Regions from separate parts of the Homo sapiens genome. Here region 1 is reported to be linked to region 2. The links are microRNA targets in miRTarBase. Many come from high-throughput screens and were not tested one by one. Region 2 holds a microRNA gene; the other region holds the end of a gene's coding sequence.
The links. Region 2 holds the annotated microRNA hsa-let-7i-3p (CUGCGCAAGCUACUGCCUUGCU, at 1,117-1,138, shown strand). A microRNA usually pairs through its seed, bases 2 to 8, with sites in the 3' UTR of a target mRNA and lowers its output. Matches are read on the target gene's strand: a 7mer-m8 pairs with bases 2 to 8, a 7mer-A1 pairs with bases 2 to 7 and ends in A, and an 8mer does both.

Region 1 (4,393 bases), not on the chromosome of region 2:
TTCTTGGTTACAAGGTAAATGGTGAAATTATCTGTAACACAGGTGGCCCAACTTCTACAACTCCACACTTTCAACACTTGCCTGTATGTTTATGTGCTATCTGGATAGCTAGCAGACTCCTTAGCCCAATTAACAGCCAGAATGGAAAAAAAAAAAAAAAAAAAATCCAAGGTTTGAGATATATGGGATGGAGAAGTGGTTTTGTCTGCCAATGAGACTGTCTACCTGGCACACACTACCTGACACAGAAATGTTGCTCAGGGAAATCAACAAAGTGCTACCTACCATTTTACAAATGTTTATAATTTGTACTTTAATGAAAAATAGAGGGTTCGAATAATGTTGATAAATCCCCAGCCAGTATTTCTGCCTACAGAATGTCTAGGAGATGGGTGTGTGTGTGTGTGTGTGTGTGTGCGCGCGCGCGTGTGTGTGTGTTTTGGGTGGGGGTGGTGATGCCAGCTTTCAGAAGTAGAAATGTTGTTGACAAAACCCTGTACTCTGGGGTGGGGGTGGGAGTATGGGGCGTTATCACAGACATGCACATTTTTTTTTTGTGACAAGGTCTCACTCTGTCGCCCAAGCTGAGTGCAGTGGTGTGATCACAGCTCACCGCAGCCTCGACCTCCTGGGGTCAAGCAATTATCCTGCCTCAGCCTCCAGAGTAGCTGGGACCACCGGCATACCTGGCTAATTTTTGCTTTTTTATAGAGATGAAGTCTCACTATGTTTCTCAGGCTGGGAAAATCTTCTTAAAATGAAAACGCTGGCTTTTAATCTGCATGCACTCTGTTCGCAGTCCCCTATTAACACTGAATGAGCTGAGGACTAAAGTACCCAAGAGAAAGGATATGATTCTGCCCCATGATTCGGTAACAGGAAAGACAGGCTTTCTTGCTCATTTCGCTTCAGCGGTTTGTTTAGACAGAGATAAATCATCCCTTGGGTTTTTAAAACAGGTTATTCAACCTGAGCATTAGATTCCAATATTAACCAGAGTCTGATGAACAGATCTATGACCACATAGACCAACCAAAAGCACATTTAAAATAACCAAAAAATTCACTATGGATTATGCTCCCACAGAAATAAAGGGACACTCATATCTTTTAAATTTGGCAGGAAGGTAACAGTAATTCTAAACAATAGAGTTCATAAATACACAGAAAGATACTTACTCCCCAGGAAATGAAGACACCCAAATGCAGCCTATATTTCAGTTCGTGGTGACAATCTGTACCAGTGTAGTATGCTGAACACATTCGTTTCAGATTAAAGAATGGTCAGAAATATCAAGGGGAAAAGACCCAAGCTTCATAATACCTTATACCGGAGACTGATCTAATATAAAAAAGTACACATGCATGGCATTAGAACCCCAACACAAAGAGTCTCTGAACTTTTCACAGTCCAGAAGGCAAATGGACTCCATCTATTCATAATTACAGACGAAACGAGAATCGGGCTTTAGGTCATACCCTTTACCTGTTTTTCCCTGTACCAAGTGAGAAGGGTGGCAATGCAAAACCATTCAATACAAGCATACGTTTCTTTGCAACTCTGCCTACTATGGGTGGGAGAGGCCCCAAGCCCAGGGTTTCAAAGAGTACAGGAGTGGCCTGTGGATGCAGATTCCGATTCAGCGGGTCTAGGGCCTGAGCTCCTGCCTTGGTAATAAAGCTTCACAGTGTCACTGGAGCCGCTGGGCTGCAGTTACTTTCAGCAGTGCTGGCAGAACAAGGCAAGTTGTCAGAGCAGGAGGAAGATGACCCTGAGCCAAGGGCAGACTCTTGCAGCATCACCTGCTCACTCGGTGCCCACCCCACCCCTGGACAGAGATAATAAAGAAGCCAGTACTCAGAGCAGGTACCACCAGCCTGAAAGATTTACAAAAGGCTGTTATTTCGTAGCATTGCAGGAGGAAAAAATACCCAAGTAACAAATTTCAAAACTGTTATCAACAGCAAATTGGGGAAAATATATCAGATTTCTGGGGGCTGCTAACATGTTTATGTCAATCCCCAAAAAGAACCTTCTCTGGCCAACAAGCTTCTTTGTAAGGAAAAGGAAGTGGCTTCAATCAAGCATTGTGCGAACTTTTATAAAAGTCTTTACCTTGGGAAAGAAGAAGTTTGTGTTATTAGTTTTAGGCTCCTGCATTCATTTCTTTGGAGCTAATAAAACAATGAGATCTAAAAATCAGGATCCATCAGCTCAACTTCAAGTCCTTCCCCTGTGCCAACCTCAAGGCCAGAACAGTTGGTCCCTTGGTTCCACTCCTAGGATGGTTTCTCAGGGGGCTGTGTGCAGCTCTCACCTTCCCCCATAGATAGGCTCATTAGAGACCCCCTGCCTCCTCAGGGGACACAGACTGAAGACATTAGAAACACAGAGGGGAAACACAAACACGAAGTTAGAATTTTACCAAATGGCCGTAATTACTCTGACAAAAGGAGCTATTCAAAAGGGATGCTGCCAAGGTTATCGGGTCTCAAATCAAAATCTGCCTTCCCCATCCATGATCTGAGTTCACATTTTCATGAAAGGGGGAAAAAGCCTTGCACAAACCCAAGGCCAAGAAAAGTGTTAACAAGAGAGATGCCTAAGCTAGCATCTCAGCCACAAACTTACACAGACGGACTCAACAGAGAAAACTTTTTTTTTTTTTTCAAAGGAAAAACTCCAGTCTTAAGTTCAATTAAAAAAACCCCTTCAATATTCTTAAGAATATTGCTTCGGTTACGTGTTGCTAAGAATGATAATCCTGAGTTGGATGGACAGCACATCCATATACTTTTTTCCTTTTTTAAACAATGATCTAAGAGACCCTCTCAGGGCATTTTGGAATAATGCTTTCAAAAAGAGAACTGAGGTCCAAGAAACAGTGACATGGAGGACAGGAAGAACAAATTTTATAGAAACCTTGTGTTATCCAAATGTACTTCAGTCTGATTTACTCTTCTGATAGGTAGTCAGATTTTTTATTTTCAAACGTGCCAGGTACATTTCCCACTTTTGAATAACAGCAAAACCGGAAGAGGATGCTTTCACACATAATAAATGTTCTCCATCCTTTCTGAAATGCACCAAAGCAAAAAGCCTCTGAAGTCAAAACATGAGACATAATTCCTTGCTCATTGCAGGAGACATGCAGGTGCCCCCTCCTTTACCCAATACCAAGAGACAGACGGCCGGGCAGGTGTAAGGCGGGTGGCGCTGCAGCTGACATGGAGAAGAGTCTAAATCTGAAGACACTTTTCCACACTTAGGACAAGTTCTTCACTTTCATGCTTTATTGAAAGTAGAATATGAATCAAAGACAGGCATTGGTAAGCAGGTTATGTCTCTAAAATTACTTTTCGTTCAGAGCAGAATGTTGTCCCATCTACTTGATACAATCCTTTATGGACCAACGCATCTGGTATGAAACTCGAGCAAGGAAATATAACAGAACTTTATTCCCCTCCCACGACTATAAATCTCATATGTAAACATGATTTACTATTACTGCTACTAAACTTGTTCCGTCTTTACTTGCCCCCTCCCACCCACCACCCCCCTTAAATATAAAATTGGAAACATTTCCTTCAAGTCTGATGTCCATCAGTGCAATCTGCTTTATTTGACATAAGGCATTTGGGACAGTCACGTTTGAATGGATTTCTGCCTTTTGGAAGGGGCATGTAATGGTTTAATTCTTAAATCCACCTTTGCTTTAATGCCCTAACATGTCAAACTCCTCTTCCCCTCTGGTCATTTCTTAGCAGTCAGCAAGTATTCAAAGATTAATGTCCAAGAAGACCAGTACCTGGGAAAAGAAACACACGTGGAGGGATAGTTGTGAACTACAGATTAAAAGTTCATGGATTCCATTTACCAAGAACACATCATCAACAGGGAGCATCAAATTTAATAAATGAACACAGTCGCACCTTGGTGTGGGAGGATAAGACAAAATACCAGCAGACTCCAGGCTCTCCGCTAAATCACATTTTTGTTGAAAGCCATGTGCTTCCTAAGTGTATCTTCACACAAACTAACCAGATTTTATTGATTCTTTCATTTAATGACCATTCTTCTTTTCTGAGAGTTTCACTCTTGTCGCCCAGGCTGGAGTGCAGTGGTGCAATCCTGGCTCACTGCAACCTTATCTCCCAGGTTCAAGCATTCTCCTGCCTCAGCCTCCCAAGTAGCTGAGATTACAGGCGCACGCCACCATGCCCGGCTAATTTTTGTATTTTTAGTAGAGATGGGGTTTCACCATGTTGGCCAGACTGGTCTCGAACTCCTGACCTCAAGTGACCCACCCGTCTCAACCTCCAAAAGTGCTGGGATTACAGGCGTGAGCCACCATGCCCGGCCAATGACCATTTTTCATAAAGACGTTTTTTGC
Region 2 (4,354 bases):
TCGCCCGCTGCCTCAGCACTCTGGTGACGTGGAATCGGGGTCCCCTCTTTCAGGGCTGATTTCTGGTAGCACGCTGACGCCTGCCAAGGCAGGGAAAGGGGACGCCGCCTCTGTCCCGGATGTAAGATGGCGGCGCGGGGGGCGGCCTGGCGGGGCGGTCACGTGGTGAGGAGTAGCGCGCGAGCCTCCTTAAGTGATCTCTAAGGTTCGTCCGGACGCACAGGAGCAGCGGAGCGCGAGACGGGTCTTGTGTCCGCACGCGTCGAGTCGTCGCAGTCGCCACCCGGGCCATCGCCGGGCCCGGTTTCACTGTTAAGGGGTTTTCGTTTGTTCCGTTTTCGCCTCCTGTAGAGCTGAACGGGAATTCCCCGAAGGGTGCTGGGGAACGGGTGGCCTGGGGACTTCCCGGCTATGCCTTGGCTGCTGTTTGGCGGAGCCGGCGGCAGCCTCTGCGGGATGCCCGCCGGCGATTATCGGCGCCGAGAGCGGGCCGGCGGCGGGTTCGACAGCGCGGCGCGGGTGGGGGCCCGGGTACCGGACTCGGCCGCAGCCCAGCCCCCACCGGGGACTCGGAGCAGGGAGGGGCGCGAGCGGCGCAGCTCGGGACGTGGCGGCAGCTCCTAGCGGGCGAAGCGCGGGAGCGCTGCTCGCTGCCTCTCGGGGGCAGTCCAGAACCAGTTGGTGTCTGACTGCGCTTTTGCCGCCCATTTCCTGCTTTCGAGCGGCTGAGGCGACGCGCTCCCCTCGGGCAGTGGAGGGAGCGGCTCTCTCCGCAGGACACCGCCGCTTTTCTCTCTTCAGAGCGGTGGCTGACGTACAGAACGCCGGCTGTATCACCCGGGCGCCGGCGCCGCCTCTCATCCCCGTAGCTCTCGGGGCGCGCCGGGAGTAGCCGAGCCGCTGGGTGCTGGGCGGGGTCTCCGGGCGCGGCGCGGGGGGAAGGCAAAGGAAAAGAAGGGGCGGCGGGCCGACGTCGGCGGCGAGGAAGGACGGAGGAGCGCCGGAGCCGCTTTGCTGCCCTCCGCGTGGTCCCGTGCCTCCCCGACACCATGGCCCTGGCTGAGGTAGTAGTTTGTGCTGTTGGTCGGGTTGTGACATTGCCCGCTGTGGAGATAACTGCGCAAGCTACTGCCTTGCTAGTGCTGGTGATGCTCAGCGCCGCGGAGGACAATGGCTGGGAATCCCCTTTGTTTTCCGGGGCGCTGCCTGGGGACAGCCCGCGAAGCCTCGGCGCCCGGCCGGCGCGGCCACCACGGAAACCGTTAGTTTCACATTTTCCTAGAAGGAATTGAGGGGAGTGGGGTGGACCGCGATGCATTTTAAAGGTTGGGAAAGAGCTAAGCCATTGGATTCCTTTTCTTGAAGGAAGGAGTGGAATTGTGTAAGATAATTGATACAGATAACTTTTTCACCCTAAAAAATTCTAACACTTCTTTCAGCAGTTAAATGCCAAATTTAGTGTGTACCTGTTTTACTTCATTCTTTAGCTGTAGGTTGGAGTGGTGTGAGCGATCTGCAGAACTGGCATTAGAGGGGCAGAAGAAGTAGACCTGATAATTAAAGTTTATGCCTTAACATTTTAGATCTGGTTTCTGATATGCTCTCTTAGTAAATCTGAGTGTGTCTTTAAAAACGTAAACCCAAAGCAATTTAAAGTTTCTCTTTAAACTTTGCAACTCGCGAATGAGAAGATTGAAATTATTTGTAGGTAATTGCACTATTCCGATTTTTTAATGTATGAGGCAAACAAATAAATTCTATGTACAGTGTGCTGTGAATGGTTTTGTTTTTTGTTTTTTCTTTTTAGTTTAACCTTGGGGCTCAGATTCTGCTGGTGTGGTGGGTTGGTTTTTTGGTTTTTATGGCCTTTGATTCTAATGTTATGTGGTACTTACATCTTTGAGGTTTTGTATGGGAGAAGAGGACTAGGAATTGAAAGTGGTTTCTAGATTTGAGTTTAAAATCTACTAACACTCATTTTGATTCCTGAGTGGCCACTACTCCTAATAGGAAAATACCTTTGCATAGAGAAAAAAGGTAGTTTGGATAACTAATGAAAATACTCAGTGCTCTAATACCCTGAAGTCTGCGTGGAAAACAAGATACTTGTATTTTTATTTTATTTTCACTGAGGGAAGTAAGTGGTCAGTTTTAGTACTTTTCGTTGAAAACTGATCTGTATTTGTACAGAATAAGTAGTTTTGAATATAATGTAATCGCAGTTTTCTATGGTTTTCTGATGCTCAGTTGAAAAACAAATAAGGCAGTTCTTTAAACCAACCAAACCCTTCAGCAGGAGTTTGATGCTTTTATCATTCAAAAGTGATCTAATATATGTGCCTTGATTGGGTTTGGTTTAGCCTTGAGAATAACCTTACTTAATCTGATCTCATCAGGATGGAGCCGCCTCATTGTGGGAAGGGCGGTGAAGAACCTTATCTTGAATCTTAAGATGCAGAAAATGCTTGAATGTTGGCTCTTGAAGTTTGCTTTTCTTGATAGCAACGCAGAGTAAATTCAGGGCTTTGTTAAGTGCTTGTTTTCTTAAATAATGAAAACCTCTGCGGTGCTGTGTCAAATCTTGGTTTATGGAGAAACTAATCATAACATGCTAATTTCATTATGATTTTATTTTCCAAAACACTTCATTCAACCAACCGAGGTAATCTTCCAACCCACTACACTCTAACATTTTTATGGAGAATCAACGGTTGTTAATCTGCACCCCAAAGTATAACAAATTCTGCTGGTAATTTAAACTTTAAGCGGATAAGCACACCAGAAATGCTCAATGTCCTATACAGATAAACTATTCATACTTTATATCTTGTGTTTTTAAAGTAAATTTTATCCACAACTACATATTGCCCAAATAGTAGTAACATTTTTGAGTTATTGGATGTAAAGGTACTTTGAGAGGTTAACTGTTTCCTAAGTTACAAGAGAAAATACTGCCACCAGCTGACTTGTTTTAATCCCATAGCTATATTTCTGCTCTAATCTCCAGTTTTAAAAATGATCTGCTAATTACATTTCTCTACACACCAACTGAAAATTACCAACTGAACATTTTCCTTGTTGACAGTTTCCCACAAGATGAATTTGATTTATCAAAAATACAGCTTTCTGAACTTAGTATTATTGACATTTACTTGGTGCAGTTAACTTTTTTGTTAAAGGTCTGTTGTCAAGCATTTAAGTAATTTGTAGTTGTAAAAAGCCACTGGTGGAAAGTAATAAGGCAGTATTTTGAGTGCCCTTCTCAATAAGTACATACTAAACCAAAGGAAAGCTGGGTTATGGTAATAACATTTTAATAAATGTCATCCTCAATTGGAAATGGAGACTGTGTTATGGTATATAGGACACACCATATGGAGAAGATTCTTGGAGAACACAGTTTTGCTTCATACTTTAAAATTCCTGATTGCTAATCTTACATAGAAAAGCTTTGTTTACAAGCTATTTTAAAATAACCTTTTGGCAGGTAGGCAAGACTGACTGGCAAGGGTGCACTCAAGACATTGTGTCTTGTGGAGTGGTCCCCAAAGAATTCCTGACAGAGGCACCTGACAGCACAAATTAGCTCTTCAGTGTATAAGCACAAAGCACCAAAAAGGCTGAGATTTCTTCCTAGCTACATGCTCTCTCCCGCTATTGTTTATTACACTCCACCCGCTCCATGGTGAAGCTGACAAAGGAGATACTATTAATTTCCTTTCCCACTGAATAATCCCCTCTGTAATTTCTACAACAAAAGGTAAATAGGACAATCATCTTCGAAAATGAATTAGGCCAGATTGGTAGTACCCAAAAGGAGAATTAATGACCATTGTCATAAACTCTGAAAAGCTGTTGGCGCTACTGATAATCTAGATAATTAAGCAAAAATTTGAAAATTATTTCTAAGATTGTCTAATGAAGTTCACTAAGTGTTTTTGTTAGGTTATCACTATTGGGCACCATGGGGAAAGCAAAATAATTGTATAGCTAGGTCATTGCCCCAAAGGAAAACAGGAAAGATGTCACATGAAGTGTTTAAGAATCAAAATGTAATTAGCTGAGTGTGGTGGTGCCTGCCTGTAGTCCCCGCTGAGGTGGGAGGATCTCATGAGCCCAGGACTTTGAGGCTGCAGTGAGCCATGATTGCACCACTGCAGCCTGGGCAACAGAGTGAGACTGTCAAAAAAAAAAAAAAATCAATGTGAGCTCAGTGCAGTGATGTGCACCTATAATCCCAGGTACTCTGGAGGCTGAGGCAGGAGAGTCACTGGAGCCCAGTAGTTTGAGACCTGCCTGGACAAAATAGTTGAGATTCTGTCTCAAGAAATTAAATAAATAATCAAAATGTGGG

Region 1: miRTarBase lists USP48 as a target of hsa-let-7i-3p. The part of its 3' UTR that is shown has no 7-base or 8-base seed match.

Annotation. Positions count from the first base shown.
Region 1 is chr1:21,675,632-21,680,024 of GRCh38, forward strand. USP48 (ubiquitin specific peptidase 48) reads right to left here. Exons shown (of 27, transcript NM_032236.8): 27 at 2,667-3,808. The coding sequence ends at 3,786. Among named protein-coding and RNA genes, the nearest start is that of RAP1GAP, 8.5 kb to the left of the region's middle.
Region 2 is chr12:62,602,631-62,606,984 of GRCh38, forward strand. MIRLET7I (microRNA let-7i) reads left to right here and starts at 1,056; the gene lies at 1,056-1,139. LINC01465 (long intergenic non-protein coding RNA 1465) reads right to left here and starts at 804. Exons shown (of 1, transcript NR_121682.1): 1 at 1-804. MIRLET7IHG (MIRLET7I host gene) reads left to right here and starts at 113. Exons shown (of 2, transcript NR_186001.1): 1 at 113-205. RefSeq lists enhancers at 1-452, 1-76, 157-346, 453-974, 975-1,496 and silencers at 427-736, 827-1,126.